Homo sapiens: one gene and its partners. The protein of the gene in region 2 purifies or fractionates together with the protein of the main gene of each other region. This does not show direct contact. Each region holds a gene or a part of one and is shown on either strand. Other genes may lie near its edges.

The links.
Region 1: the proteins of MTMR14 (region 2) and RAB10 purify together in Homo sapiens (affinity purification with mass spectrometry; 2 studies listed by BioGRID and IntAct, with this or other methods). This does not show direct contact.
Region 3: the proteins of MTMR14 (region 2) and SCCPDH purify together in Homo sapiens (affinity purification with mass spectrometry; 2 studies listed by BioGRID and IntAct, with this or other methods). This does not show direct contact.
Region 4: the proteins of MTMR14 (region 2) and SEH1L purify together in Homo sapiens (affinity purification with mass spectrometry, with the first as the bait; 2 studies listed by BioGRID). This does not show direct contact.

The regions. Positions count from the first base shown.
Region 1 is NC_000002.12:26,133,833-26,139,058, reverse strand, and holds the end of RAB10 (ras-related protein Rab-10), read right to left. Parts: intron 4,122-5,226; coding exon 4,038-4,121; 3' UTR 1,605-4,037; downstream 1-1,604. UniProt on the Homo sapiens protein: The small GTPases Rab are key regulators of intracellular membrane trafficking, from the formation of transport vesicles to their fusion with membranes.
Region 2 is NC_000003.12:9,651,424-9,660,778, forward strand, and holds part of MTMR14 (phosphatidylinositol-3,5-bisphosphate 3-phosphatase MTMR14), read left to right. Parts: intron 1-2,197; coding exon 2,198-2,346; intron 2,347-8,275; exon of another isoform or gene 8,276-8,386; intron 8,387-9,355. UniProt on the Homo sapiens protein: Lipid phosphatase that specifically dephosphorylates the D-3 position of phosphatidylinositol 3-phosphate and phosphatidylinositol 3,5-bisphosphate, generating phosphatidylinositol and phosphatidylinositol 5-phosphate.
Region 3 is NC_000001.11:246,760,054-246,768,637, reverse strand, and holds the end of SCCPDH (saccharopine dehydrogenase-like oxidoreductase), read right to left. Parts: coding exon 8,562-8,584; intron 8,468-8,561; coding exon 8,411-8,467; intron 4,393-8,410; coding exon 4,281-4,392; intron 2,581-4,280; coding exon 2,499-2,580; intron 1,444-2,498; coding exon 1,338-1,443; 3' UTR 501-1,337; downstream 1-500.
Region 4 is NC_000018.10:12,970,782-12,980,136, reverse strand, and holds part of SEH1L (nucleoporin SEH1), read right to left. Parts: intron 8,985-9,355; coding exon 8,886-8,984; intron 4,405-8,885; exon of another isoform or gene 4,255-4,404; intron 1,386-4,254; coding exon 1,245-1,385; exon of another isoform or gene 1,244-1,244; intron 1-1,243. UniProt on the Homo sapiens protein: Component of the Nup107-160 subcomplex of the nuclear pore complex (NPC). The Nup107-160 subcomplex is required for the assembly of a functional NPC.

The DNA of each region.
Region 1 (5,226 bases), on a different chromosome or scaffold from region 2:
GGGGGAGACCATATCCTATTTCCCTACACCAATCTTGTTTGTTTTTTTTTTTTTTTTTTTTTTTTTTGAGACAGAGTCTTGTTCTGTCACCCAGGCTGGAGTGCAGTGGCATGATTTCGGCTCACTGCAACCTCTGCCTCCCGGATTCAAGCGATTCTCCTGCCTCAGCCTCCCAAGTAGTTGGGATTACAGGCATGTGTCACCATGCCCGGCTAATTTTTGTATTTTTAGTAGAGACAGGGTTTCACCATGTTGGCCAGGCTGGTCTCGAAGTCCTGACCTCAGGTGATCCACCCGCCTTGGCCTTCCAAAGTGTTGGGATTATAGGCGTGAGCCACTGCACCCAGCAAAGGCAGAATTGTAGGTCCCAACAAAACAAGTATGTTGGGGGGAAGGAATAGAACATTAAAAACACTCCATGTGATTCTTAAAATCACTGCATCTGAGAAAAACTCTACATATACTTTCAGCAGAGACAATCTTGTCAACAAATATTTATCTTTATTATTGACTAATAAAGCCTGAATATAGGATCAAACATTTCTTTTCCCTACACATAAAGACAAGGCTGTTGCTATGTATAACAAAAGCAGGAAATACTGTTTTTTGTTTTTTTTTTTTTGAGAAGGAGTCTTGCTCTATAGCCCAGGCTGGAGTGCTGTGGTGCGATCTCGGCTCACTGCAACCTCTGCCTCCTGGGTTCAAGTGATTCTCCTGCCTCAGCCTCCCAAGTAGCTGGGATTACAGGTATGCGCCACCACGCCCGGCTTTTAGTATTTTTAGTAGAGACGGGGTTTCATCATGTTGGCCAGGCTGGTCTTGAACTCCTGACCTCAGGTGATCCACCCGCCTCGGCCTCCCAAAGTGCTGGGATTACAGGCGTGAGCCACAGCGCCCAGCCAATACTTTTTTTTTTTTTTTTTTTTTTTTGAGACGGAGTCTTGCTCTGTCGCCCAGGCTGGAGTGCAGTGGCGCTATCTCGGCTCACTGCAGCCTCCTCCTCCTCCTCCCGGGTTCACGCCATTCTCCTGCCTCAGCCTCCCGAGTAGCTGGGACTACAGGCGCCCGCCACCACGCCCGGCTAATTTTTTTGTATTTTTAATAGAGACGGGGTTTTACCACGTTAGCCAGGATGGTCTCCATCTCCTGACTTCGTGATCCGTCCGCCTTGACCTCCCAAAGTGCTGGGATTACAGGCATGAGCCACCGCACCTGGCCAATACTTTGTTTCTTAGTAAGAGGCCAGCTGCTGCTAAAACAAGGATTTACCCTCCAGTATGAGGAGCCCAGCTTGGTCCCCCTGAGGAATCAGGTGACCTCAGCTGTAGTGGCCTTAGGCACATCCAACTAGTGTAAGCCAGGTGTGATTAGGATCGTGGCATCTCCTATTTTGGCACAAGGATGATTCCGCTTTAGGATCCCAGAGATAATTCTATTTTTTAATGTAGTTTCTCAGCAAAGACAGTTCTTGAAATTGCCTTTCCAGTTTTCCATAGGTTGACAGTGATTTCCCATTTTTGTCAACTCTTTGAGTTTGCGATTCCACATTTTTTTCAGAAGTAATCTTCCAATTCCATAAATAAATGAAAACCAAACCACACAGCTGGAAATCAAGTTTTGTTTTTATATGAACAGAAGTAGACCATCTAGAAATATTTCAGTTTATTTAAATTGTTAAGTAGAATATGAAACCGAATTTGTAGCTAGTACCAGAGAATGGACTTAACTGTTTGGTGTTTAATGAGAACAGCTTCTACACAGGATCCCAAGAGACTTACAGAAAAGGGGCAAAGCCCTAATATTAAGCAAATAAAACTCATGTTTCAAACAGATTATACAAAAATTGATTTATACTTCATTTCCCTTTTTTGATATTTAGAAAGTGCAGATTTAACAAAAGGTAGCCATATCCTTTCTATGTACAATGCCGATTATAATTATGCAAAACTGTCAGTCTGTTATCCAAAAATCCCAGTGTTTAGCTCTCCAACCTTAAGTCATGGAATTGAATAAGAATTAAAGAGGGTTAAAATAAAAAAGCTAATGCCACATTCCAGATAAAGGGAAGCAACAAATACATTAATCTAACAACAGTAGGTTTAACCTAAACTTTTCAAAAAGCTTAACATCATTTCATTATATTTTTAGTGGAAAATTAGGGATTATTTGGCAATGCTGCTTTTTACTAGTAGTAAACAATGATAAAGTCAAGTGTGGGAATAACCTAAGAATAACAACCAGTGAGGCATATAAAATTGTTTTTAGGGCACTATCTGAAAAATTTGTGGATTTTCATAGCAGATACGTCCCTATGTTGTTTGCTTATGTGAGCCAAGAGGTCATTAAAATGCTATTCACGACACAGAAAGACTTCTCAATGGAAGCTGCTGTCCTAAACTCAGCCTCTGCTAGAAATGAATCATGCTATTCACAATTCTTTCAACAAAGGTATCATCTTAGGATGCTAGCAGCATAGCAAACTTCACTTACCCTATCCTAATGATAAGCAATGAAGCAAAACTAGAAAAAATGCAGTGAAAAAAGGACAGGGTTAGAGATAGCTAAAGATCTTATCTTTACATGAAAAGCCTTTCGTTGTCCTTTTTCCAAACCCATGGTAATACAAGTTTTCCAAAAGGATGTAAAGACAGGACTTAAAATTAATAATATTCTAAAGTATTTCTGAATCTTAAGGTAAAGAAACTTAACACTGAAAAAGTGTTCTTCAGAGGCCAAATCTCAATACATTTGGCAAACATGTTAATAAAATTCACTCCTCCTTCCTGCTTTTCCTTTTTTAAAAAAACAACCTGTACTAGGCTACCAAGCTGCTAGAGGAGTTGCCAAAATGCAGACTACTCAAATTTAGGTTAAGAGATTTATTCTAGGAAAGTGAATAGGCTATACACCTAATTAGAAAGACAAACCACAACACCCTCCAAACACTAGTGCATGCAGTTAACTCTTCCATTTCATAAACTCAATGGATAGACAGGAAGGGAACAAAGAGAGGAGGAAAAGCAGAACATAGAAGTAAAACAGCAAATGAAGGCATCTGGGACACATTTTAGGGAAGAGAGCAAATGAGGGGGGAAGACACCAATTAACTGACATTGGATAGTAGGCAGTTAGAACTTATCTTTCCGTTTACCTAGCAAGTTACATCAGTGCTTTATATTAAACTTGACAAACCTACTAGTTTGTCCCTTTCACTCTTAAATATACCATGAGGTGGTTGGGGAGGGAGAAGCAAATAAAGCAGCATGCAGGGAGACGCAAGGAAGAAGTGGCCAAGGAGAAGAAATGGTGGCAGGAATAGTTTTAAATATCAAGGCCACTTAAAACAAGACTCAGCAAACCAAAGCTATCACTTCTGCATTACCCTTTGTCCTCAATTAACTACTTTGAAAATTACAGCCAAGCAAACCACAAACATTTTAATGGTTTATGTTTGGATGATATGTCTCCTGCACATGCTTCCACCAGAACAAAAAAGGAAAACCAAAGAAGTTCCTTTCCACATAAGGCACAGGACAAAATTAATCCCATTTACATATTCAAGGCGAAAATGAGTGTTTTCCTGGCTTTTGTTTGTTTCTTTTGCTATCACATGTCTATAGATTATAGGGACTCAAGCACATTATCCATGACAGAAAATTCCACTGTTGTACAAAATAAAATTGTTAATTCTAACTTTATTCTTATACAATTTGCAGAATAGATTTGAAATGATTGCTATAGGTTTTAATGTTGATAAGAACTGGACTATAATACAACTGAAATGCAGTTGAGCTGAGCAAGTACATTTAAAAATGAACTCACAGACATGATTTTTCTATACATTTTTTTGTTTGAAGAAAATTATGATAAAGTCAGCAAGCAGTCACAGATGAAAGAACAAATAAAATAGGTGGCTTGGATAGTTAAGATGAGAAACAAAAATATCTGTTTAGAGTTAAAAATGGACAGAGTGGTTTATTTTGCAGCAAGAAGAGAAAACGGGGTAGTGGATGGCAACTGATGGAACAGGAGAATGCTCAGCAGCATTTGCTCTTCCAGCCTGTCACGCCTCCTCCACTGCTGATATCTACATTTTCACTGTTGGGCTCTTTTACAGGGGTCTGCAACAAACACACAAGGAAAATAACTCATGAAAAAACACTGCCATGGATAAAATCACGATTCAACAGGAATATTCTTATGTCAATTTATACAACAAAATACAACTACAATCACAGGAGATAGGTTTCCCCTCCGTGCAAAGTAAAGATTTGGAAGCTTTGTTTTGATTTTCTTTTTGCCTGCTTCCTCCAAGCTGTGAAATATTGTAGACATTTCCTGGCATGCCTTTATAAAGCTTCTGAAATCTTCTCAGCTCTAACTCTTAAATAGATTTTGTTATCTTCTAGCCCTGACCTCTGAATATGTTTAGTACTTAAAAGGCATTGTGGAGCAAGTTGTATGAAACCAGTGTTAGGTATATGTAACGTCACAGAAATAAAACTGCCCTTTTCTGTTATCTGCCTTTTTAGACCAATTTTATTACTGTATCATAGTTTTAAAAAGGCAACCTCAACTGATTAAGTGAAAAGGAGTGGAGCAAAATGTAGTTATCTAATTCATGTTAAAAATGGATATAGATGGCTGAGCACAGTGCCTCACGCCTGTAATCCCAGCACTTTCAGAGGCCAAGGTGAGAGGATCACTTGAGGCCAGGAGCTAAAACCACGTTGGGCAACACAGCAAGACCCCCATCTGTATAAAAAATTTAAAATATTAGCTGGACACAGTGGCTCAAGCCTGTAGTCCCAGCTACTCAGGAGGCTGAGGCAAGAGGATCACTTGAGCCCAGGAGTTCAAGGCTGCAGTGGGCTATGATCACTCCACTGCACTCCAGCCTGTGCAACAGACCAAGAGAGTAAGACTCCTCCCAACTCCTCTAAAAACACCGAAAAACCCCAAAGGAGATACAACAAAATACTAACAGTAGCAACCCTTAGGTGGTAAAATTATGGTTGATTTAATTTTATTCTTAGTATAATTCTGCTTTTTCCCAACACTAAATATTACTTTGAAAATCAGAAGGGCCGGGTGTCGTGGCTGAGGCCTGTAATCCCAGCACTTTGGGAGGCCGAGGCGGGTGGATCACCTGAGGTCAGGAGTTCGAGACCAGCCTGGCCAACATGCCAAAACCCTGTCTCTACTAAAATTACTAAAACTAGCTGG
Region 2 (9,355 bases):
TGTAGGTCATTGGTTTTTCTGGACCCCTCTTCCAACTTACATGACCCTGAAGATTAGGGTTAGCATAAGTTACACCTCATATTGGCTGCGGCTGGCCTTAATTATCTCTCCAGGCCTTCTGATCTCCTGCAAACTTAGATGTATATATATTTATATGTATTTATAACAATTCAGGCAGAACAGGGAGTTAGATCTGTAACTGAACAATCGATTGAGATAACTCACTACCTTTGGACTAACTTCTTGCAAACTTTTTTTTTCAGAAGGAGTCTCCCTCTGTCACCCAGGCTGGAGTGCAGTGGTGCGATCTTGGCTCGCTGCAACTTCCACCTCCTGGATTCAAGCGATCCTCCTGCTTCAGCCTCCCTAGTAGCTGGGACTACAGGCATGCACCATCATGCCTGGCTAATTTTTTTTTTTTTTTTTGAGATGGCGTCTCACTCTGTCGCCCAGGCTGGAATGCAATGGCGTGATCTCGGCTCACTGCAACCTCCGCCTCCTGGGTTCAAGCGATTCTCCTGCTTCAGCCTCCCCAGTAGGTGGGAGTACAGGCGCCCGCCACCATGCCCAGCTAATTTTTATATTTTTAATAGAGATGGGGTTTCACCATGTTGGCCAGGATTATCTCAATCTCTTGAACTCGTGATCTGCCCGCCTTGGCCTCCCAAACTGCTGGGATTACAGGCATGAGCCACTGCACCCAGCCTAATTTTTGTATTTTTAGTAGAGAAAGGGTTTCACCTGTTGGCCAGGCTGGTCTCAAGCTCCTGATCAGAAGTGATCTGCCCTCCTCGGTGCCTCCCAAAGTGCTGGGATTATAGGCGTGAGCCACCATGCCTGGCCCTCTTGCAAACTTCTTGATGTTACAGTTCTTATGCCTTTTTTCTGTTGTGTTTTTCTCTGAACTGTGATCAAAATAAGTAATTTTAGGGGGAGCTGTTTCTTCTATTTCACCAGCAAGTTGTGTATAAAGAGACTTTGCAGCTTTTACTGGTTGCATGGAATAGAGCTTGTAGGTACTAGTCTATGGCTAAAGAATGGGGAAGAGGGCCAGTACACTGGCTCACGCGTGTAATCCTAGCACTTTGGGAGGCCAAGGCAGGTAGACTGCTTCAGCCCAGGAGTTCGAGAGCAGCCTGGAAACATGAACCCCATCTCTATTAAAAATTTTTTGTTGGCTGGGCGTGGTGGCTCACCCAGGAGGCAGAGGTTGCAGTGAGCAGAGATCACACCATTGCACTCTAGCCTGGGTGACAGAGCAAGACTCTTTCTCAAAAAAAAAAAAAAGGAATGGGGAAGAGGCCAGGCATGGTGGCTCACACCTGGGAGGCTGAGGCGGGCGGATCACTTGAGATCAGGAGTTCAAGACCAGCCTGGCCAGCATGGTGAAACCCCATCTCTACTAAAAATATGAAAATTAGCCAAATATGCTCACTTGAACCCAGGAGGCTGAGGTTGCAGTGAGCTGAGATCGTGCCACTGCACTCCAGCTTGGATGACAGAGTGAGACTGTGTCTTTTAAAAAAATAAAGGCCGGGTGCCGTGGCTCACGCCTGTAATCCCAGCACTTGGGGAGGCCGAGGTGGGCGGGTCACCTGAGGTCAGGAGTTTGAAACTAGCCTGGCCAACATGGTGAAACCCCTGTCTCTACTAAAAATAGAAAAATTAGTCAGGCGTGGTTCTACGCACCTGTAATCCCAGCTACTCGGGGTGAGACAGGAGAATCGCTTGAACCCCGGACGCGGAGGCTGCAGTGAGCTGAGATTGCCCCACTGCACTGCAGCCTGGGCGACAGAGCGAGACTCCGTCTCAAAAAATAAATAAGAGAATGGGGAAGCTGACCAATGAAGGTAGTGGATTAGTGGCAGTTTCAGTAACCTGGACCAAGAGTTCTTATGTTTTATGGGTTGTAGACCTCTTTGAATCTAATGAAAGCTGTAATCGTCTCCCCCAAATGCTCAATACCCACAATTTCAGATTCATTGTTAGGGGTTTAAGAATCCTTCCTGAAGTATACAATATATGGGTTAATGGACTACACGTAGGACCTGTGGCCTAGCATCACATCTTCCCAGCACAGAATAATTATCACCCAGGTACATGTCTTTCCCAGTGACCTCTTAGGCCATGGACCTCCTAATTCTCACCCTCAGAACCCCAGAATTCTCTTTGTGTTCTGGTCTCCTTCTCTGTGCAGGTTGAGCGCATTGAGAAGAGATGTCTGGAGCTGTTTGGCCGAGACTACTGTTTCAGCGTGATTCCAAACACGAATGGGGATATCTGTGGCCACTATCCCCGGCACATCGTGTTCCTGGAGTATGAGAGTTCTGAGAAGGAGAAAGACACGTGAGCATCATGTGACCGTAGTGTACATGTCTGGGGAGTCCGTGGCAGCTAATCCCTGTGGCCAGGAAGTCTGTAGCTGGGCAGGGCAGAATCACTTTCCCCAGGTGTTAATCCTTATTGGCATTTTTATTTACTTCAAGGTTGGACAAGTCAGACTGGCAAGGTGGCATGGCATAGAATGAGGGGTTGGGAGTAACAGCCCTTGATTGCTGTTTCACTTCCACCCTAGAGCTCATTGTCCTAAGATAGCTGACTTCACACTTCACTTCTCTGAATATCAGTGTCCCTTTTTTAGAGAGTGTGAGTGGGAGGTACACTGTGTAAAGACAGGCTTACCAGCGTTTACCGTATGTAGCACTTGAGAGCCTAAGGTCTAGAGTCAGACTGCTAGAGTCAGACTGTCTAGAGTTCACATCCTGGATTCCCCTGTTGCTGGCTGTGTAACTGATGCTGGGCAAGTTACTTAACTGCTTTGTCCTTAGTTTTCTTATTGGTAATTCTCTACCTCATGTTAATTAGTCCTTTTAAGGACTAACTAAAATTTTAGAAAGTGGTAGTGCAGTCCAGATGATAAATGGGGCTGATAAAAGCCTGACATGTACGTTGTAAGAATTAGAAATAAAAGCTACCATTTATGGTGGGCCTACCAAGACCTGAGTACCTTATGTGGGTTAACAGTTTATACCAGAGCAGACACAGAATGCTTGGTGCAGGTTGTGGCCTGTAGGTAGTCAGTAAATGGTATAGTTATTTGATACTGATAAGTAATCACAGCATGAGGCTCTAGGAAGTGGTATATGTTGATCTCAAAGTTTGCTCTCCTAATCTCCCTACTTCCTGCTGATTTTAAGGGAATTTCAGGAGCCGTTGTCAGCACTATCTGTGAAATCCTGGCCCCGTGGGTGAAATGTTGTGAGGAGTACCGCAGCAGTCATGCTGCATAGTGCAGTAGCCCCTTGCTACTCAAAGCAGGGCTAGCAGTGCATTCAATAACTTGTTAGAAACGCAGAAGCTCATGCTCCAGAGCCACTGAGCCAGAATCACAGCAGAACAGGGTGTCCAGGTGATTCGAATGCACTACCAGGTTTGAGAAGTGCTGCCGTAGGCCAACTGGGGAAATGGTTAATTCTGCCTTGTGTTTATGTGCCTGGGAAGAACTGGAATTGGAAGGATGAGCAGGAGTTTCCCTGAAAATGTCCTTAGGGATCAACTCATATAGGATCTTGATCATCAGGCCAGGGAGTGTGAACCTGTGGGTTGTGTGTGGGTATCAGTGGTTTTATTGTGCTAGGAACCCCTAAGCACTTACTAAGATTATGGATTCTCGGCCTGGCCTAGTGGCTCATGCCTGTAATCCCAGCCTCCTTTGGGTGGATCACCTGAGGTCAGGAGTTTGAGACCAGCCTGGCCAACATGGTGAAACCCCATCCCTACTAAAATTACAAAAACTAGCTGGGCGTGGTGGTGGGCTCCTGTAATCCCAGCTACTCGGGTGGCTGAGGCAGGAGAATCGCTTGAACCCAGGAGGTGGAGGTTGCAGTGAGCCGAGATTGCACCACTGCACTCCAGCCTGGGCAACAGAGCAAGAGCAAGACTCTATCTCAAAAAAAAGATGACAGATTCTAGAACCTCTCCTGGGCCTTCTGGAATCAGAATTTCCAGTCTACATTCTGTGAGAGCTCCCTTGATGTCTTTTTTTTTTTTTTTTTTTTGAGACAGAGTGCTCTGTCACCCAGGCTGGAGTGCAGTGGCACGATCTTGGCTCACTGCAACCTCTGCCTCCCGGGTTCAAGCAATTCTCCTGCCTCAGCCTCCTGAGTAGCTGGGATTACAGGCGCCCGCCACCACGCCCAGCTACTTTTTTTGTATTTTTAGTAGAGACAGGGTTTCACCACGTTGGTCAGGCTGGTCTCGAACCCCTGACCTCATGATCCAGCCGCCTCGGCCTCCCTAAGTGCTGGGATTATAGGTGTGAGCCAGCACACCCGGCCTCTTGATGTCTTAAATACACTATAGCTTGAGAACCGCTGCTGCAGGCCATGGGGAGCCAGAGAAGGTTTACAGCAGAGGAACAATCCAGTAGGAGGAGTTTAAGCACTAAGCCTTAGTTTCCTCATCTGTAAAGTGGGGATGTCTATAAGAGTGCCCATCTTGGCCGGGCGTGCTGGCTCACACCTGTAATCCCAGCACTTTGAGAGTCCAAGATCATGAGGTCAGGAGATTGAGACCATCCTGGCCAACATGGTGAAACCCCGTATCTACTAAATATACAAAAATTAGCTGGGTGTGGTGGCGCACGCCTGTAATCCCAGCTACTCGGGAGGCTGAGGCAGGAGAATCACTTGAACCCAGGAGGCGGAGACTGCACTGAGCCAAGATCGAACCACTGCATTCCAGCCTGGCGACAGGGTGAGACTCCATCTCAAAAAAATAAAAAAAAAAGAGTGCCCATTTCACAAGGTTGTAGTGGGGTTCTCCAAGAAAAGAGTGTTAAGGGCTCTTGTAAATAGATCACAGAAACAGTATTACATCCTCAGTTATATAACCTAAGAACTTGGGATCGCCAAGCCTAAAGAATTGGGGTTTGTTATGGCCCTGTTATTTATGGTTCTTAGCTCTTCCTTAATTCCTCCTTCCAGAATTAGGTAAGCTTAGTTTCTTTTTTTTTTTAAGACAGAATCTTGCTCTGTTGCCCAGGCTGGAGTGCAGTGGTGCCATCTTGGCTCACTGTAACCTCTGCCTCCCAGGCTCTAGCGATCCTTGTGCATCAGCCTCCCAAGTAGCTGGAATTACAGGTGTGTGGCACCACACCTGGCTAGTTCTTGAATTTTAGTAGAGATGGGTTTTGCCATGATGGCCAGGCTAGTCTCAACTCCTGGGCTCAAACAATCCGCCTGCCATGGCCTCCCAAAGTGCTGGATTACAGGTGTGAGCCACCGCGCCCAGCTGGGTAAACTTAGTTTCCGTAAATCTTTAAGCTAAAGTTTCTGAACAAGAGGGTTTTGTTTTGTTTTGTTTTCTTTGTTTTTGCCTTGCCATTCTCTTCGTTCCCCTTCTTCCTACCCTCTTTGGTGCTGGCTGGCTGGTGGTTTTACCTCTGTGCCCTGATGATGACATTCTGATATTAAGCTCAGCTGTAATCAAGGTGGGTTTTTTTGTTTTTGTTTTTGTTTTTAATTAAGACGGGGTCTGGAATGCAGTGGCACAATCATGGCTTGCTGCGGCCTTGATCCCCTGGGCTCAAGTGATTCTCCCACCTCAGCCTCCCAAGTAGCTGGGAATATGGGCACATACCACCACTCCCAGCTGATTTTTTTTAATTTTTAGTAGAGACCAGGTCTCGCTGCATTGCCCAGGTGGGTCTCCTGAGCTCAACAGATTTCCTCACCTCGGCCTTTCAAAGTGTTGGGATTAGAGGTGAGAGCCACCGCACCCAACAGAGTGGTTCTTTTCTATGTTGATTTTATGAGTGAATCAACTGGGGATCTTTCTACAATGCAGAGATTCAGAAGACCTGAGGTGGGCCTGCGATTTGGCATATTCTAACAAGCTCTCAGGTAATACCAAATGTTACCCTTCAGTAACATAATAGTACATTGAGAAACGTAGTGGTGGTTGCCTTGTAAAAGCTTTTCCTGGAAGGAAACAAGTTTAGTGTTGATCCCTTAAAGAGACTGAAACTAGTATTTGTTGAGTACCTCTGTTTGGCAGGTGTTGAGGTTTTACTTGCTAGCTTAAGCCCTACAACTATTCAGTGAAGAAGACAGTATCACCACTCTTTTTTTTTTTCAATTTGATATGGAGTCTTGCTGTGTCGCTGAGGCTGGAGTGCAGTGGCGCAAGTGATCTTGGCTCACTGCAACCTCTGCCGCTCAGGTTCAAGTGATTCTCCTGCCTCAGCCTCCCTAGTAGCTGGGATTACAGGCGCGTGCCACCATGCCCGGCCAATTTTTGTATTTTTAGTAAAGACGGGGTTTCAACATCTTGGCCAGGCTGGTCTTGAACTCCTGACCTCGTGATCCACTGGTCTCGGCCTCCCAAAGTGCTGGGATTACAGGTATGAGCCACCGCGCCTGGCCCTCACCACTCTTTTATAGATGAAGTTGAAGCCCAGAGAAGTAATTTGCCTTTGCCGAAGATCACAGAGGTAGTAAGCAGAGTGGGGTTAAAAGCTGTATTTCCTGACTCTGTACCTGTCTGCCTTATCTTTCACCACCACGGCTCTCCCACCTTGTCTAGCAGAACCTCACAGTTAGGCCAAGGCCACTGTGGAACATGATTAACCTTAGAGGAGCTTGTTGGAGTTTGTTTTTACTTTTCACTCCTTGCAAGGCCTTAAAGTGTTACTGAAGTGATGTTGAGTGGGTGATGCCTGCTTGTTGAAAGGGGGGACTTCGGGTATGTTTGGGTGGGAAGAAATAGCATTTTTTGCTTTTTTACTGTCTGGCTTGGCTGTTACTATGATGCTGAATTAAACTGAATAGACTGAATAAAAAATAGACTGAATTAAACAGGGTAGAATTGGATTTAAGCAATGTTTTGGTCCTGTTAAGGAACCTCTCCAATTTGGTTCATCATCTGGGAATAGAAGCCTGGACAGGGATCTCTGAATAGCTAAGACATGTTTGTCAACAGTGTTCGTTCAGCTGCTGCTGTGTAGTAGACCTCAGGGATCAAGTTGGAAGCCAGATAGATGAAGTCCTTACCAGTAGGTCTAGTGGGAAACAGAGTCCAATAAAGAAGCAATAATTGTTAATAAAAGCTGGAATTAGGGGAAGTACAGGTGAGGCCCTGCCGGATAGTGGTTAAAACCATGGGCCCAGTGGCTACCCACAGGGTTTAGAATCTCAGCTACCCTGTTTACCTGTTCTGTGACTTTGGGCTAGAGATTTCATCTCATTAAACTACCTCATCTGTAAAATTGGGTAAGTGAGGACTGAGTGAGATAATGTGGGTGTAAGCTCTACTTTGTGCCTCTTATCTATTAAATAGTAGCAGCAGTAACATTTATCTCAGGAAGTTGTGGGGTACATTATAGGAACAAGCCACCCAGTTTGGTAAGTGTGGTGCCTGTCTGGGAAAGCTTCCTATTGGAAATATGTGATAACAGCATTTTCTTCTGTATTTGAAAATAGTTTGGCTGGGCATGGTGGCTCACGCCTATAATCCTAGTTACTTGGGAGGCCGAGATGGGCGTTTCGCTTGAACCCAGGAGTTTGAGACTGAATTAAACTGAATAGACTGAATAAAAAACAGACTGAATTAAACAGTCTGGGCAACATGGTGACACCTTGTCACTACAAAAAATACAAAGCATTAGCCAAGCATCGTGGCATGTGCCTGTAGTCCCAGCTACCTGGGAGTCTGAGGTGGGAGGATCACCTGAGCCCAGGAGGTCAGCTGCAGTGAACCATGGCGCCACTGCACTGCAGCCTGGGCAACAGAGGAAGACCTTGTTGGGAAAAAAACAACAAAATCTCACTACCTGGTAACATCTTGCCAGAAATTTCAGTGCATACATTACAAATGTAAATACAGAAGCCTACATTCATCCCTTCGAATGTGAGTATTATGTGCCAGACACAGCTCAGTGCTTAGCACTGCAATAAAAGAATCCTAAGGACAAGAGATAATAAAAACAGGAAAAAGTGAGAGAACAGAAACTGAATTGGTTCTTTTTTTTTTTTTTTTTAAGACGGAGTCTCATTCTGTTGCCCAGGCTGGAGTGCAGTGGCGTGATCTCTGCTCACCGCAACCTCCGCCTCCTGGGTTCAAGCAATTCTCCTGCCTCAGCCTCCCGAGTAGCTGGGATTAGAGGCGCGTGCTGCCACGCCTGTCTAATTTTTGTAGTTTTAGTATAGACGGGGTTTCACCATGTTGGCCAGGCTGGTCTTTACCTCCTGACCTCAGGTGATCTGCCGCCTGAGCCTCCCCAAGTGTGGGATTACAGGCATGAGCCACTGTGCCTGGCCAGAAACTGAATTGGAGCTTGATGTAGGGGAACCGGTAAAGGAACCACTGGCCGACCTAACAAGAAAAGGTGGGTCATTACATTAAAAGATCCTCCCTAGAGGAAAATGCTGATGTGTCCTCCACCAGGGGTGTTTTGTTTGTTTGTTTTTAACAGAAGTTTAGCCTGAGAAATCCACCTTGGTTTTGAGGCTACAACTCAACCTGGGAAAATCAGATGTAGGCATTTAGGGTTCAGAGGGCTGGTATGAGCTAAGTGAGAGTCGGTTGCAGCAGATGGTGCTGACCAGATATGTGACATCGGCCACGGGCCAAGTAAGTGGGAGGAAGGCCACTGTGGCAGTACTAAAGGTGCTCGGTTTTATATTCTTGTGGAGTCTAGTTAGGCAATTAATTGGTACCAAGGTGCCTTTTGATTTCATAGAGAAACTGGGTGAGGGGAAGGCAGCACACTCTGGTTCTCTGTGAGCTTGTGTGCCTAGGGCTGCCTGGTGGGTTGCTGCCACCCTACGGGCACTTTGCTTTTTTTTTTTTCCCCCAGACGGAGTCTCGCCCTTCGCCCAGGCTGGAGTGCAATGGCGTGATGTTGGCTCACTGCAAACTCTGCCTCCCGGGTTCAAGCAGTTCTCCTGCCTCAGCCTCCTGAGTAGCTGGGATTACAGGCACGCGCCACCACGCCAGGCTAATTTTTTTGTATTTTTAGTAGAGATGGGGTTTCACCATGTTGGCCAGGCTGGTTTTGAACTCCCAACCTCAAGTGATCTGCCCACCTTGGCCTCCCAAAGTGCTAGGATTACAGGTGTGAGCCACCACGCCTGGCCCCTAGATATATTTTAACTAAGAATTCGCAGTATTTTAAAGACTGTGTTTTTATTAACCCTAACAGCATCCAGATACATTTAAAGAGGTACCACAAGTATGTGGGAGTCACTGATTTCTTCCTTCTGGGATAATATTTGGGTGCATGTGTACAAGAGGAGCTGTACGCAGATTCCTAGAAGGATTAGGATGTGGAAGCAATTAAATTCCCTCTAGGAGT
Region 3 (8,584 bases), on a different chromosome or scaffold from region 2:
CATATCAAAAACACAGAGGCTTCGACCTCCCGCCCTCCTGAACGCAAGTTGCTGCAGGCACGGAGGAACCTGTTACTGTTTCGTGATTCAGATGTGCAGCTAGTCGTGGGCTCTATTGCTCCTGTACTGCTTTCTAATTTCACAGCCGATAAAACCTTTTCTAAGGTCCCACAAGTTAGGGCACAGCTGAGGATCTGTATCTTGTGATGACCAGGCCAGGACAGAGGAAGCAGAGTTAGGGTGGGGAATACTACCACCAAGAACACCCTCTTCGAGTTAGATACCCCCCGCTTCTTCTTACAGGCCTCTTTGAGTTAGATACCCTCCCCCACTTCTCCTTACAGGCCTCTTTGAGTTAGATACCGCCCCCTCTTCTTCTTACAGGCAGAGCAGAAGGGTCTCCCAACACAAATAATATTCCTAAATATTTTATGTTCCTCACTTTTTGGTAGAAATTCCATAAAGGAGTGGCTGTCTTGTTTAGGTAATGAACAACATGATTGCTATGTATATACGTGTTTATTATATGCTTATTACAAAAGAAAAAGTCTTTTGCCTTATTTTAGGGCTTCCATGTAAAACCTAGTTAAAATACAAAAAGTAAATTAGAGAAAAATTCTGCTTAGGTAGTGAAAATTGATAGCAACTTATAAGCTGTATCCTTAAAAACCTAGTCACAGATATAGAATTACGTAAAGATAAAATGATAAGCCTACTTATTGGCAAGAAACAGGTTAGGCCACTTAAGCAGCATGTTTCTACCACTATACAAATACATCGGCAGGTCCAAACATTAAACCACCATTCGATTGACAACCTTTTATTTTTCAACTTAGGTAACAGTCCAAAATCAGTGTAGATTGGCGAAAAACTAGGCAAAAATAGCAAAAAGTGCAGTTTAATTTAGCAAAGGCTCAAGACAGTATGTGGAAGGAAGGTGAGATTTCCCTCCTACTGCGGCAAGGCAAGCGGCAGTTACTGCCCGACAGTAACGATGGTGTGCGCACCCCCGATGAGAATGCTGCTGCAACACAGACTGGGACGCCGCCTCCCCCATTAGACCTGCCAGCTCATTCGTGAAAATCTACCAGGAACACATCAATGAAAAAAATATGTCAAATATGAGTTCTCTGTTATAAGCAATAAAATCACAAAATCAACTCAGATTTGAAATTTAGGGTAAGCTAGGACAATTTCCTACTTTTTAATATATAGATATTTTAGATTTGACAATCGTTTCCACATACACTCAGACAGGCTTACAGAAGAATTTCAAATATCAAATAGAGAAGCTGTTAATTCACGCACGTTATGACTTCAGTTAATTCTTCCAGTGTTTAGACTTCAGAGCTGCTAATAACACTAAACTCAATACCGTGTTTGTTGAGTCTGTCAATCAACTTTGTTTTGGAAAAAGCTGCTCCAGGTGTGAAGACCCCGCCCCTATAAAACAATAACAAGAGAAAACAGTGCACTCAGCTCCTCTCCAGTCTCCTATTTCACAGGCCTCACTATCAAATTGCTACAGAACCCCTGAAAACCCAAGTCTTCATGGTAATCACGGCTACCTTTGATTCCTTCCTAAAATCAGCCAAATGAGCAAGTAGCTATTAGTCAGGAGAAACTTGCACCACAGCCAACCCTATCTAGACTGGCTCTGTTCCTGGAGATACTGTTTCCATTCTATGCATGTGTTTGGTGGGTGCACTGTGCGCCATCACCCCGAAGAACCGCTGCTGTTTACAAGGACAGTCCTCAGACTTAGGGGGATTAAAGAAAGACCCGAATGGAATAAATTTAGATAATCAATTATTATGAAAGTGTAAACAGAACTTAAATTGGATGAAAAAGAAGTTTTTAAAAATATAATAGCTAACATTCATAAATGCTAAATATTTTCAAGGGGGACCTAGGTATTTGAAAAAATTTAATTAGATTTTACTATATACAAATTTTACTTTTATTAATCCTGTTTTAGGTCATGCCTGGTTTACTTCTCAGCAGCAGGCCTCTGCTCATTTGAAAAGCTGGCCTAGTTTTAGGGGGACAGCTAAATGCTCCAGTAAGACAGTACGTCTGAAAATCATCTAGCCAGGATCCCATGGTTCCATTTATGCTGGTGTCAGTCAGGGTTACTACTGCCAGCTGGGTATAGTTAGGCACTGATTGGAAGCTCCTAGTAATACTATTAACAACAGGGACTTTTTTGAGTGGCTGACTCTGGACTTGAGGTATCTTTATAAAGGGCTGAAGTTAACTCATGGCTCTCCAACTTTTCTGTCTCCTCTCATTTACCTCCACAGTTGTTCCTCTGAGACCAACTCTGGGCTGGTAAGAAGCTGTCCTTCTCACAGTTTTAATTTACCTATATTTTTGAAGCAAAGGAACTGAACTATAAATGCTTACATGCAAACCCAAAGCCTGAAAATCAAATCAAAATAAGCTAAAATATAACATAGATAAAAAAGATCTTCTAATTGGAAGAAAACCAAACTTACGCCTTAGGCAGATGAGAAGCATCACTTAGAAGAGTCATGGCTGCCTGAACCATAGCTATGGGGGTAGCCACATAGCCAGCCTCTGCAGAAAACAGTTGATCAGGGAAAAAGAAAGGAATCATGAAGTACCCATTCAACAACATCAAAAATCAAATGGTAGATTTTATATCTTACTCTAGGTGTGCAGATTTTTTTCAATAGATACTCTGGTCACTTAACAAAAATAACATATCGAAAGTATTTATTAAGTGTTAGGAACTGTACTAAGTGCTTTAGGTCTATTAAACTCATTTAATTTTCATAACAATTATTTAAGGTCAATATTACTTTTATCCCATAGAGAGAGAGGTTAAGTGACTTGTCCAAACTAACAGGTAGTGACTGAGCCAAAATCACACCCAGGCAGCTGGTTCCAGAGTCCACACTCCACCCACTGCACTGCACTGCTTCTTGACAATCATTGAAGCCAATGATCCTAGGTTTTTTGTTTCTCTATTGTACACTGAGCCGATCCCTATCTGTATTCACACACTTCACTTAAAAACAACAAAAAAATCCTCTCAATTTTTTCTTAAAGAATAACGACTAAACATAAGTTAAAAAAATGTTTATAAACAAACGGAACATTAGCATTTATAATCCTGTCAAATAATGAAAATACAGTCAACTTACCTTAAAAAGTCAGGTGGGAATTTCAGAAAAGGGCAAGATGGAAACATACTATCATCTGGCTTGATTAAAATCCCCCGTGGGCCAGGCATGGCAATTCATGCCTGTAATCCCAACCCTTTAGAAGGCTGAGGCAGGAGGACTGCTTGAGCCCAGCCTAGGCAACATAGTGAGACCCCGTCTCAATAAAAAATTATAGCCTGTGACCTAAAAGGGCTGACAGTAATTATACTACAGTTCACAAGTGGACCTGTCTGTCTCTGACAGTAATTATACCACAGTTCACAAGTGGACCTGTCTGTCTCTGACAGTAATTATACCACAGTTCACAAGTGGACCTGTCTGTCTCTGACAGTAATTATACCACAGTTCACAAGTGGACCTGTCTGTCTCTGACAGTAATTATACCACAGTTCACAAGTGGACCTGTCTGTCTCTGACAGTAATTATACCACAGTTCACAAGTGGACCTGTCTGTCTCTGACAGTAATTATACTACAGTTCACAAGTGGACCTGTCTGTCTCTGACAGTAATTATACCACAGTTCACAAGTGGACCTGTCTGTCTCTGACAGTAATTATACCACAGTTCACAAGTGGACCTGTCTGTCTCTGCATAGTTCTGTAAAATGTACAGCAAAAGTTCTTGAACGTTTTGGGCAACATTCTTTTAACAACCTATCAGAAGCCATTCCCTTCCCTTGAAAAGTGCACGTGTGCATACATATTTTACAAACAATGTCAGGGTGTTCAGAGACTCTAAAGAAATCCTAGAGCACAGATTTGACTGACATTATAATTACACTACTTGCATATGAGATTCAAACAGGTGAATATCAACCAATCCCTTTTCCTATTAATACTAATTAAAATTTGCCATTCTGAATTACTGAATCATACTCCAAAAACAGCCAGAGGGAGGGATGCACTAATAAAATTGGATTATATCAATAATTTCAATCTTCCTTTGACAGAATAATTTTAAGTTACTTAATTTGTACAAATGTATTTCTAAAACAATTAAGCTTTAAAAAGAATATATTGTAATGGCATTGTACTTTATAGCTTAAGAGTATAAAATTCCCAAGCATTCTTAAGTGATATGTGAAATACCTGGTCCTTTCACCTGAGTACAAATTTTGATATTTGGTTTGTTCTTATCTGTACCAGTGCCTTGGCTGTATCCTTGACCAAAGAATGTCAGCGTGAATGAGGCAGCATCAATCTGTGAAGGAGAAGGCAAAGGGCGCATTTCATAAATACGTCATTTCCTCCTGGAACATAGTAAAACCGACTATTCTATTTCAAGTGAGACATTGTCAATAGATGAAAACATTATTTTATCTGCCAGAATATCCCGTCATCATTTAAGCAGGGAGCGAAAACTAATTCTTTGAAGCTGTCAGTTTTGAAGACTGGCGTGATGTTGGGGGGAAGGGGAGTGGTAAGAAATAGGGAGGAAATAAAGATGATCTGGAGATAGTTTTTATCGGGGGGCAGAATATAGAAATCTGGTTTTAGATACCTATTTGAGGCGACAAGACAAAAATAGCCAGCAAGTAATGGAAATATGGGCCTGGAGTATAGGTATATAATTGTTCCACTTAAAGATGTAAAAATTCGACTCAAAAAACTAAATTCTTGAGGACTTATCCTAGCATCTTTCACAATCACTAAATTTAGGAATGAGGTGATAAAGAATTCAATCATGATCAACACATTTTTATGAAGTATCAACTAAGGGTCAGATACCATTGAGGCCCTGAGACATAATTACTGCCTTTGCTGGAGCTTACAGTTTAGTAGGAGGAAAGGGGGGGAGAGAGAGATAAACAGATTAAATAACAATGTGACATGAACTAAAACATACAGGCATAACTCAGAGGAGGGTGTTATTAATCTACCAGGGCAGAGGGCAATGGTTCTGAACTGTATATATACACACACACAAACACATTTTAATGGTTGTTTTAAAACCCCAAAAGTAGATGGATTCCAGAAAGGAGAACCCATTATTTAAAGGGAAGAAGGGATGCAGTAGCATAGCCTTTCCAGAACATACAATTCAAGAGGTACAGACAAGGTCAGACACACATGCCACACCTGTCCCATCTCCTGCTATGGCGCCCACACTAATGGGTTCTAATCCTCTCTCAGGCTACACACATTGTCCGACCCAGCATAGTCTCTGGGTGGCTACTATCAATTAATCAAAGTTGGATGAAAAATGAATCCTATGTGCTATCCAGAACTAGATCATGAAGGGTCTAGGATGGCCTCACATCTCTGAAGATGGACTTTCGGCCATTTGTGCTCCAGGGGTGGGTACCAAAACCACTCAAATCTGGAACCTTCTTCCTTCCTCCGCAGTGGTGATTCTCAACCCTGGCAGCACATTAGCATCACTGGGCAGATTTAGAGAGCCCCAGTGCCCAGGCTGCATTCCAGACCAACCGAACCAGAGTCTCTGGTCATCTGTTTTGGGTTCTCTTCCAAAGTTGGGAACCACTGCTCTATGCTTTCAGGCCCCACTCCAGACCTACTGAATCAGAACGTCCAGAAGCAAGATGAGGGCATGTGTCAGTGAAAAAAGCTTCCTAGGTGATTCTTTTTTTTTTTTTTTTTTTTTGGAGAAGGAATCTCGCTGTGTTGCCCAGGCTGGAGTGCAGTGGTGTGATCTCAGCTCACTGCAAGCTCCACCTCCTGAGTTCAAGCAATTCTCCTGCCTCAGCCTCCTGAGTAGCTGGGACTACAGGCGTGCACCACCATGTCCAGCTAATTTCTGTATTTTTAGTAGAGATGAAGTTTCACCTGTTGGCCAGGCTGGTCTTGAACTCCTGACCTTAAGTGATCCACCTCCCTCAGCCTCCCAAAGTGCTGGGATTACAGGTGTGAGCCACTGCGCCCGGCCATGATTCTGATATATGAAATCTCAGTTAAGAATCACTGCCAAAGCAGTGGGCCAGGAACATTTTATAAAGAAGGCAATGACAAGGTCAGATTTTGTGTCTTAGAAAGATCTCTTGGACAGCAGTGGGAAGACAGATTAGAAAGAAACCGTAGGAATGCTACGAAAAGTTCAAGCAAGAGATGGAAGCCTGCACTACCAACCACGAGACAGAAGCCTGCACTATCCACAAAGTAAAACGGCAACCCAAAGAATAACAGAAAATATTTTCAAGTCCTTCTGTTCATTTTTGAATTAGGTTGTTTTTTGTTATTGAGTTCTAGGAGTTCTCTATATTTTCTGGATATGAATCTTCTGTCAAATATATGATTTGAAAATATTTTCTCCAAAGAAGACATACAAATGGCCAATAATTGCAAATGAAAAGATGTTCAACACTAATAATCATCAGGTAAATGCAAATCAAAAATACAATGAGACACCACCTCACGGCCATTACAGAAAATAACAGATGTCGGTTTGGAAGCAGAGAAACTGGAACTCTCGTATACTGCTTGTGGGAAGGTAAAACGGTGCAGCAGCTCTGCAGAACAGTTTAGTGGTTCCTCAAGAAGTTAAATATACAATTCACATACGGTCTAGCATTCCATTTCTGAGTATATGCCCAAAAGAATTTAAAGCAGAGTCTTGAAGAGGTATCTGTACACCCATGTTCGCAGCAGCATAACTGGCAATAGCCAAAAGCTGGAGGCAACACATGTGTTCACTGATGAATGAATGGATACACAAAATGTGATCCAGACAGGCAACAGACAATCATTCACCCTTAAAGAAATTCGAACACATGCTTACAATATGGATGAACCTTGAAGACCTTACGCTAGGTGAAATAAGCCAGTCACAAAAAGACAAAGACTGATTCCATTTACATGAGGCACTTGGAGTCATCAAATTCATAGAGACAGAAAGCGGAATGCGGTTGCCGGGGCTGGGGGAGGGCGGAAATGAGGAGTTATTGTTTCACGGGTGTAGAGTTTCAGTTGTGCAAGATGAAAAGTGTTCTGGACATGGATGGTGGTGATGGCTGCACAAAAAGATGAATGTACTTAATACCACTCAGCATTTTTAAATGGTTAAGATGGTACATTTTATGTTTTGTGTATTTTACCACAATAAGAAGAAAAAAGAGGCCGGGCGCAGTGGCTCACGCCTGTAATCCCAGCACTTTGGGAGGCTGAGGCAGGTGGATCACGAGGTCAGGAGTTCAAGACCAGCCTGCCCAACTTGGTGAAACCGTGTCTCTACTAAAAATACAAAAAAATTATCCGGGCGTGGTGGCGCATTCCTGCACAGTGCCTACATTAAGTGCACAGGCGGGGGATTAGCCTTGTACAGGGAACATATCATCCAGAGAGGAGGAAAGAAGGTCGGGATGGAACAATGATGCTACGTTAAGTGCACAGGCGGGGATTAGCCTTGTACAGGGAGTATATCATCCAGAGAGGAGGAAAGAAGGTCAGGATGGGAACAATGATGATAGGTCTGAGAGTAGGAATTTGAGGGGATACAAAACAGTGCTCTCAATTATTTTAGTGAGGTAGGAGTTGGGATAATTTACAGATAGGGAAGACAGCTGCAGTTGGGTAGATTTTGAAGAAAGCCACTGAGAGGAGATAAGAGGCAAGACTAACGAAAAGGAAAAGAATCAGCAAGTGATGCTAACATTCCACAGAGGGGGAAACGGGAACTTGCTGCTACCATCTGTTCAGCAGTGGGATTTCCCCCAGGAGTGCCTGGTGTCAAGGAGATGAAAGCTAATGACCCAAGGCCTGAGCCAGGGTTGGGATCTGTAAGCCAAACGGTAGAAAATGAGGCAGTCCTATTGTTGGGGATGCTGGACACACAGAAATTCACTTGATCCCCCGTCGGAATCCAGGGTATGTGGAAGAGGAAGTGAAACTGGGGGCAGAGGAGGCACAAAGGAAAAGATAACAGAGGAGAAAAATGGAGGAAGAAGAATATTTGAGATTTCTGGAAGTGAAGAGAACACAATTTCTGGAGCTAAATGGCTGGGTTCTCATCCCAGCTGGGCCATGTACTACCTGGAGAAACTTGGGCAAGTTTCTTAGCCTCTGTGTGCCTCAGTTCTCTGATGTGTAAAATGGAGATAATAATAATACCTACATTCAAGGGGTGTTTGAAAAGATTGAATAATCTAATTTACATAAAGAACTTAAAAGAGTATCTGAAACATAGTGCCCTGTCAAGTGTTAGATGATACCGTCATTGCACAAAGAAAAATATTATTTTAGTGTCTTAATACAAAAGAAATTACCTGTTTTTGTGTTGGGCCTTGTTTTGAAAAATAGCCAAAGGAGAAGAACCATGGGAACTAAAGGGAAAAAAAAACCGTCAGTGATATTTTTTTAAAACTCATGGAAAATACTTCTAATAAAAATAATCTAATTTCATAAAATCTTACTTACTTTTATGAGAAGTTGCCTTCCAA
Region 4 (9,355 bases), on a different chromosome or scaffold from region 2:
GAGCCCCTCTGCCCGGACAGCCGCCCTGTCCGGGAGGGAGGTGGGGGGGGGTCAGCCCCCCGCCCGGCCAGCCGCCCCGTCCAGGAGGGAGGTGGGGGGGTCAGCCGCCCGTCCGGGAGGGAGGTGGGGGGGTCAGCCCCGCGCCCGGCCAGCCGCCCCGTCCGGGAGGTGAGGGGCACCTCTGCCCGGCCGCCCCTACTGGGAAGTGAGGAGCCCCTCTGCCCGGCCAGCCGCCCCGTCCGCGAAGGAGGTGGGGGGGTCAGCCCCCCGCCCGGCCAGCCGCCCCATTCGGGAGGTGAGGGGTGCCTCTGCCCGGCCGCCCCTACTGGGAAGTGAGGAGCCCCTCTGCCCGGACAGCCGCCCCGTCCGGGAGGGAGGTGGGGGGGTCAGCCCCCCGCCCGGCCAGCCGCCCCGTCCGGGAGGGAGGTGGGGGGGTCAGCCCCCCGCCCAGCCAGCCACCCCGTCCGGGAGGTGAGGGGCGCCTCTGCCCGGCCGCCCCTACTGGGAAGTGAGGAGCCCCTCTGCCCAGCCACCACCCCGTCTGGGAGGTGTACTCAACAGCTCATTGAGAACAGGCCATGATGACAATGGTGGTTTTGTGGAATAGAAAGCGGGGAAAGGTGGGGAAAAGATTGAGAAATCGGATGGTTGCCGTGTCTGTGTAGAAAGAAGTAGACATGGGAGACTTTTCATTTTGTTCTATACTAAGAAAAATTCTTCTGCCTTGGGATCCTGTTGATCTGTGACCTTACCCCCAACCCTGTGCTCTCTGAAACATGTGCTGTGTCCACTCAGGGTTGAATGGATTAAGGGTGGTGCAAGATGTGCTTTGTTAAACAGATGCTTGAAGGCAGCATGCTCGTTAAGAGTCATCGCCACTCCCTAATCTCAAGTACCCAGGGACACAAACACTGCAGAAGGCCGCAGGGTCCTCTGCCTAGGAAAACCAGAGACCTTTGTTCACTTGTTTATCTGCTGACCTTCCCTCCACTATTGTCCTATGACCCTGCCAAATCCCCCTCTGGGAGAAACACCCAAGAATGATCAATAAAAAAAAAAAGAAAGAAAAAAAAGTAACTGTAAAAGACCATTTTTAAAAAACATTTCAAAGTTTACATTTTTAAGTAAAACTTCCAGAGCAGAAATATAAACCAAATCATAGTTACCTCTACTCTCTCCTCCACAAACAAAGGTAATCAGAAGGCAAGAGTATTTTCAAATTCATAAATGCTTCTAAAACTCACCTCACAGGCTTTAATGTAAAAATTCTCACATCTTTGGTCGCTATTGCTAGAATATGGAAAGATCTTCCCAAATTTGGAGCGAATGCAATATCATGAACAGGATCAGTGACTGTCATAAGAGTTTCAGCTTTTGCATATTTCCTAATGGAAAAACAATTGACATTAACATTTTAGAAATAAAATGTGCAAAAATCCACACATCACTGCATCTCACCTTTTTTTCACACTGCTCACAATCATGTAGTGCTCACCTCTGTAGTGGGCTCAACAGCAGCCCCCAAAAGAATATGTCCAAGTCCTGACCCCCAGACCCTGTGAATGTGACCTTATTCAAAAATAGCGTCTTTGAAAATGTAATTAAGGACCTCAGAATGACATCCGAGATTTAGGGTGGGTCCTAAATCCAACGTGCAGTAAGTATTCTTTAAAAAGAAGAGAAGAAACGCAGAGACAGAGAGGAGGCAGCCATGTGAACACAGAGGCAGAGATTGGAGTTATGCTGCCACAAGCCAAAGAACTCCCGGAGCCAGCAGGAGCTGGACTAGACCAGGAAGGATTCTAGAGGAAGCACAGCCCCAACACCTTGATTTCAGACTTCCGACCTCCAGAACTGTGAGTGAATACATTTCTGTGTTAAGCCACCTGATTTGTGGTAATTTGTTATGGCAGCCCTAGGAAATTAATACAACCTCCCACGTTTCCTCCTTTAATAATGTACATTTAGCTCGAAACGCTTTAATAAAAATTTAATTACAATAAGGTCTTGGCTGGCCACAGTGGCTCACACCTGTAATCCCAGCATTTTGAGAGGCTGAGGTGGGAGAATTGCTTGAACCCAGTAGTTCAAGACCAGCCTGCGCAACACAGCAAGACCCCATCTTTACAAAAAATACAGAAATAGCTGGGCATGGTGGTGCACACCCATTGTCCCAGCTACTCAGGAGGCTGAGGTGGGAGGATGGCTTGAGCCCAGGAGGCGGAGGTTGCAGTGAGCTGAGATTACGCCACTGCACTCCAGCCTGGGCAACACAGTAAGACTCAACTGCAAAAATAAAAAATAAAAAAGGGCTTGATTTATTAGCCACTAACATCTTTCTTAGGAAAAGAGTAACACATTGCCTAAGTATTTGAATGTAAATAAAAAAGTAAAGCTGGTAACAGGAATTGAGGTTTTTTTGAGACAGTTTCACTCTTGTGCTGGAGTGCAATGGCGCAATCTTGGCTCACTGAAACCTCCGCCTCCTGAGTTCAAGTGATTCTCGTGCTTCAGCCTCCTGAGTAGCTGGGATTACAAGCGTGCACCACTACGCCTGGCTAATTTTGTATTTTTAGTAGAGACAGGGTTTCACCATGTTGGTCAGGCTGGTCTTGAACTCCTGACCTCAGGTGATCCACCCGCCTCTGCCTCCCAAAGTGCTAGGATTACAGGTGTGAGCCACTGCGCCCAGCAGGAATTGAGTTAAGTGATAATAAAAGGAAACTATGCAAAGGCTATTTCATCCTTGCAATTCTATTTCTTTATCTATAAATACAGAATAAGAGGATAATGAAGGCAGTGGTAGATCAGAGTTTTCTACTAGGTTCTTCTAAGATTGAATATCCTGGACAGAACGGCAGCACCTAACCCCCTGCATGTAGGAGACTGGGTGGAGACATCTCCCCATCCCACCTTTCTACAGCATTCTTCACTTGACCTTCTTTTCATCCCAACATTCTTCCTAAAATCTCTACCAAGCTGGTACACACCTCAAGGTTCTCTCCTTGATCTTTCTCACCCATCCAATCACCCTAAGCAATCTCATCCACATCCTTGCTTCTACTGTGTGGTCTGCAGCAGCCTGGGAGCTTCTGGGAAATCCAGAATCTCAGCCCCCTCCTGGGGCCTACACAATCAGAATATGCTTTTTTTTTTTTTTTGAGACAGAGTCTGGCTCTGTCGCCCAGGCTGGAGTGCAGTGGTGTGATCTCGGCTCACTGCAAGCTCCGCCTCCCAGGTTCATGCCATTCTCCTGCCTCAGCCTCCGGAGTAGCTGGGACTACAGGGGCCTGCCACCACGCCCGGCCAATGTTTTTTGTTTTTTTTGTATTTTTTAGTAGAGACAGGGTTTCACCATGTTAGCCAGGATGGTCTCGATCTTCTGACCTCGTGATCTGCCCACCTCGGCCTCCCAAAGTGCTGGGATTCAGGCGTGAGCCACTGCGCCCGGCCAGAATATGCATGGTTTCTACACCCATGGTTTCAGTACCTATAAACCAATAATTCCTAAATCTATCCCCTGCAATTCAGGGGATAGATTCTGGCCTTCTACCAAAGGCCAGAAATAGGACAGGTGGAGCTAAGAGCACACATGCTGCAGCCAGAACGTGTTTGAATCCAGGCTGTAACGACCTTCAGCAAGTTCTCCGTAAAGTGGGAGGAACACCCGTACTGTGGCAGAGAGATTCTAAGTGCCCCCATGACCCGCACCTCCTGGTGGTCCCGCCCTTGTGGAGGCTCCTCCCCATGAGTGTGAGTGGGGCCCGTGGCTTGTTTTCTACCCAGGGGACGGAACATGGCAAGGTGGTGGGACAACACCCGTGTGACTACAACACACAAGCCTGTGACGCCTGCCTCATGAGAAGACTCTCCTGCTTTCAGGCCTTGCAGAAGCAGCTGCCATGCTGTGAGGACACAAGGGAGGGTCTCGTGGCAGGAACACGAGTGCTGCCAACAACCAGGTGAGCTCCGAAGTGGAGTCTTTCCCAGTCTGGCCTGACTCTTGACCCACAGACATTGAAATACCGAATCTGTACTGTTTCAGCCACTGAGTGATAATGCTGTCATGCAGCAATAGACAACTAATCTCAGCTATTCTATCCATCTGCCTTTACACATCCCCACCTGGATGTTCCAAACGCACCTCAAACATATGTCTGAAATAAATTGTGCTTACCACATTCACTCCTCTTTGCTCAGTCCCCATCTCAACAAGTGGCACTACCATCAGCTAGGTCAGAAACCAAGACTCACGTGACCTACAGCTGGTGCCTCCTAGACAAGTCTCCCCGGTCCCTCTTCATCCCACGCCACAGTGCATGTCCTCATTCCACATCATAGTGGGCTACTGCATTCATCCCTGAGTTCCTGCTCCCAGTCCACACAGCTGCCAAAGTCATCTCCCTAAAAGGTAAATACAACCTTGTGACTCTACTGGACCCTGCAAAAGTCCAAATGCTGCCAGGATAGAGATCAGACTTGGCAAGCACCACTCTCCAAAATCTGCCTGGCCTGTTGGCCTGCCCCTCCCCTGTCTCTCTCCTGCATTAGCCTCCCCACCCACCGCCTCGACCCCACGCCCTTGTCTTTGCTCCTGCCTCCTCTCTGCTTGCAGAACACCCTCTGTCTTTCAAGATTCATGCTCAAACATCATCAGCTGAAACTTCTCACCCTACCAGGCAGGTATGTGCTGCCATCTCTAGCAGGTGACCATCCTCATCCATATCCTAGGCGCTGTAAGCTCCTTCAGCTCTTAGTACAGTCCATGCTGCTTATGAAATGTTGAAAAAGTGAGATTTTTTTTTTCTTACCTGAGGCAAGCTATATATTGTAATTAATTAAGGTGGCTGGGCACGGTGGCTCACGCCTGTAATCCCAACACTTTGGGAGGCCGAAGCAGGCAGATCACCTGAGGTCGACAGTTCGAGACCAGCCTGACCAACATGGAGAAACCCCATCTCTACTAAAACTACAAAATTAGCTGGGTGTGGTGGCACATGCCTGTGATCCCAGCTACTTGGGAGGCTGAGGCAGGAGAACTTCTTGAACCCAGGGGGCGGAGGTTACGGTGAGCCGAGATCACACCATTGCACTCCAACCTGGGCAACAAGAGTGAAACTTCATCTCAAAAAAAAAAATAAAATAAAAATAAAAATAATTAAGGTTATCTAAAGCTTCTCCTATCAGAAGGAGCCAAATAAGATCCTCAATGAGAGTGTAAATAAAGAGAATGAACAAAAAAGACTTTGTTTCTGGTCCTGACTCTGGACCTTAGACTAGTCATTCACTCTGTTGGTCTCAGTTTTCTCATTTGTAAAACAGTGTTAATAAAAGCTGTCTCCTCTACTTACAAGGTGGTTGGTAGGATTCAAACTTCATAACACACATAAAAATGCCCGGTAACCTATATAAACACATGGCACTTCTATTATCACTATCAATCCTAGATCTGTTTTAGTATTTTCACTCACAAATAAAAACAAATATATCCAACACTGGTTAATTTGGCAAATGTCTCCTGTCTACTAAATGGTGATACTACTTAGAAAAAGATAAACAGGCCGGGCGTGGTGGCTCACACCTGTAATCCCAGCACTTTGGAAGGCTGAGGTGGGCGGATCACAAGATCAAGAGATGGAGACCATCCTGGCCAAAATGGTGAAACCCCATCTCTACTAAAAATACAAAAGTTAGCTGGGCATGGTGGCGGGTGCCTGTAGTCCCAGCTACCGGGGAGGCTGAGGCAGGAGAATCGCTTGAACCCGGGAGGCAAAGGTTGAAGCGAGCCAAGGTTGCGCCACTGCACTCTAGCCTGGAAACAGAGTGAGACTCCATCTCAAAGAAAAAAAAAGAGAGAAAAAGATAAACAGGTATTAATAACGATACTACATAGTCCACTATCACATCTCCTCCACGTTCAATCTAAATAAGAACCTTCAAACAATGCTTACCTCAAAGAACCAGCAACAGAACTCCAAAAAGTGCTGAACTTAATAGGTTTGATTACTTCCCAAGTCAATAGCACACACCCCCACCTGCAGACACTCTTTCCCCAACACCACTTCCCCTCGTTTTTGATGCTGAAAATGCCAGACACTTGCTGTCTCACTCTCTTGCAGCTAAGGCATGGCTGGATGACCAAACTCCAGCCGCCAGCACCTGATAAGAAGCCTGCTAAGATACTTCTAGGAAAGGTGTTTTTTTCTAGAATACCCTTCTTTGTATTAGCATGTAAAACCTGACATTGTGCAGCTCTTTTGTGATCATAAGAGGGAGCTATCACCAGTGTACTAAGCATGACAGCAAGAAAAAAGTGGAAAATATTTAGGTAGGTCCTTGATGTCATCATTGAGCAACTGAGTCACTACCTAACCCCAGAACTGCTCCACCCTCAGGCTCCTTGTCACATGACATAATACAGGGAATCCCCCAGTCTAGATTTATTCTGTTAGCTAAGAGACTAGACTCAAATGCAATCTCAGATTATTTTTAACATTGGATTATTTAGGTAATTTAGAAATACTTAGGTAATTTCTAGGCCGGCCGTGGTGGCTCACACCTGTAATCCCAGCACTTTGGGAGGCCGAGGTGGGTGGATCACCTGAGGTCAGGAGTTCAAGACAAGCCTGGCCAACATGGTGAAACCCCGTCTCTACTAAAAATACAAAAATTAGCCAGGCGTGGTGGCACGCACTTGTAATCCCAGCTATTCAGGAGGCTAAGGCAGGAGAATCACTTGAACTCGGGAGGTAGAGGTTGCAGTGAGCTGAGATTGCATCACTGCACTCCAGCTTGGGTGACAGAGTGAGACTCTCAAAAAAAAAAAAAATAGGTAATTTCTATTTGCCTGTATTTTCTTTCAGAACTAACTGCAAGTTATTTATCTTTTTACTCAAATCTTACTTATGAAATATTTTCTTTTCCTATGTTTTAGAAAAAAATCTTTTTTTGACACTGCTGGAGTGAAGTGGTGCAATTTTGATTTACCGCAGCCTCGACCTCCCAGGCTCAGGTGATCATCCCACCTCAGTCTCCCAAGTAGCTGGAACTACAGGCATGCGCCATCATCCCCACAGCTAATTTTTGTACTTTTTGTAGCGAAAGGGTTTCACCATGTTGTCCAGGCTGGTCTTGAATTCCTAGACTCAAGTGATCCACCCACCTCAGCCTCCCAAAGTGCTGAGATGGCAGGCATAAGTCACCTCGCGTGGCCAATGATACACCTTTTACGTTTTTGGGCTTATGTCTACATATTCATTCTGCTCAGCTCAGGTTGAAATTTACTTTAACAAGCCCAACACTTCATGAAGCCTCTATAAAATGTGCTATTAATAGGGCTCATAGTTTTTACAGCTTAAAACTCCATGAAAATCTCTAAGACCATTTCCCATCACTGCAGCACATTCTACTGGACAGCACTGTTGAAGACTGAGCCTCTCTGCAGACACCAACAATCTAGGAAGGTAGAAGGTGTAAGATCCCCTTGGTAACCCAGATGGTAACATTTGGAATTGCAGAGCCCACGGGAGTAACACTAGTTCCTTCTCTACTGCTGGCCCTGCCTAAGATCTGACTATTAGACTCAAGAATTTTGTCTAGTACCTGCGAAGCCCATCTGATCACCTGACAAGTGCTCTCTTCTCCTGTAAGACTGAGTAGTGTGCCTCTGAGACACTGCTTTTGGCTCTCAGAAGCTTTGCAGACACTTGTATCTCGGCATGACCAAAATTAACTTACCTTCACATGCTGCCACACTCTACCCAAATCTGCCTTGTTCCCAGAGTTCCTTATCTCAAGAAATTACACACATTGAAATTACACACTGAACTCTTAAGCCAGAACCTTGGAAATCATCTTAACACCTTCCCCCTTCTTCCTCAGTTCAGTTCTCAAATCCAATCAATCACCAGATCCTATTGATACCACTTCTCAATTATTCTCAAGTTGTCCACTTATCTCCATGCCACTGCTACTACTATCCCAAAGCCACGTACTCTCCCACCTGGACTGTCTTCATAGCATCCTAGCCGTGAATCCACCATGTTTCCCTCCAAAACACTTGTCACACCTATAGAAGATCCATCTGATCCCATTATTCCCTATTCACATCACCTGTAAGATAAAACTGAAACAATGGACATTACTTCTTATAGATACAAGTCTTGCCTATTTCTCTCCACACTCATTTTTGCCCAGCATGTTCCAACAACAGTATAAATATACTCCCTCTCTCTTGCTCACGGCCTTACCACATGCAGTTTTCTCCACCAGGAGTGCTTCTGCCCTCTTTGTCTGGCTAACTTCTACTCACCCTATAGGTCATCTTCTAGGTGAACCTTCCTAGCCCCTAAACCAGATTAGGTTCCCCAGGTATAAGCTCTTTAGCACCCTAATTCTTCCACTTCATAAGATTCATCACCCTTTTTTACTATTATTTTTTGTTTCACTGCAAGATGGTACATCATACTGGGAGATCAATTACCTTCTCCTCTTTTTTTTTTTGAGGCAGGGTTTCGCTCTTGTTGCCCAGCCTGGAGTGCAATAGCGCAATCTCAGCTCACTGCAACCTCCGCCTCCTGGGTTCAAGCGATTCTCCTGCCTCAGCCTCCCGAGTAGCTGGGATTACAGGCACCTGCCACCACACCCAGCTAATTTTTTGTACTTTTAGTAGAGACGGGGTTTCACCATATTGGCCAGGCTGGTCTACTTTCTCCTCTTTATCACTCATGCCTGTGCTATCACAGCCTAGCACAGAACTTGGTATATTATAGTAAATCAGCAAACATATGATGAATGACACATAATTCTGTAAATGAATAAAGAAATAACATTTTAAAAAATTAAATGCAATTCTGAACAATTATTAAAACCAAAGCAGGACTGACCTGGTGTTTTCATTATATTCAAAAATCTGAACCTTGGCCATTGCGTTGGGGCTACTGTCATCACTTCCTACGGCGATCATGGGGGAATGAGCACGAGAGCTAGAAACGGGGAGAAAGAACATTTTAGATAACAAAAGAAATACACATTTCATTCACAGAATGAACACACTGGAGGCAAGCAGACAACCAGCTTACAGTTAGCCTGTCACACTACTAGTGAATCTAGGTCTCTGCCACATAGCTGACATGGCCACACTGCAAGTATGCACCTGAGAATGTCACACATGGGAACTGAAGATTCCATCCTTATGAACTGTTTTTAGCATATTCTTATGGCTCAGATAGAAAGGAGCTCTTTGCCTGAAAAAAGCTTTCAAGCATTCAACATATTTTTAAAAGATACTTAAGAGGTCTTAGTAATTTTTCCTCCTGAAATTTTTGGTCATTAACTATGAAACAAAAAGTAACCC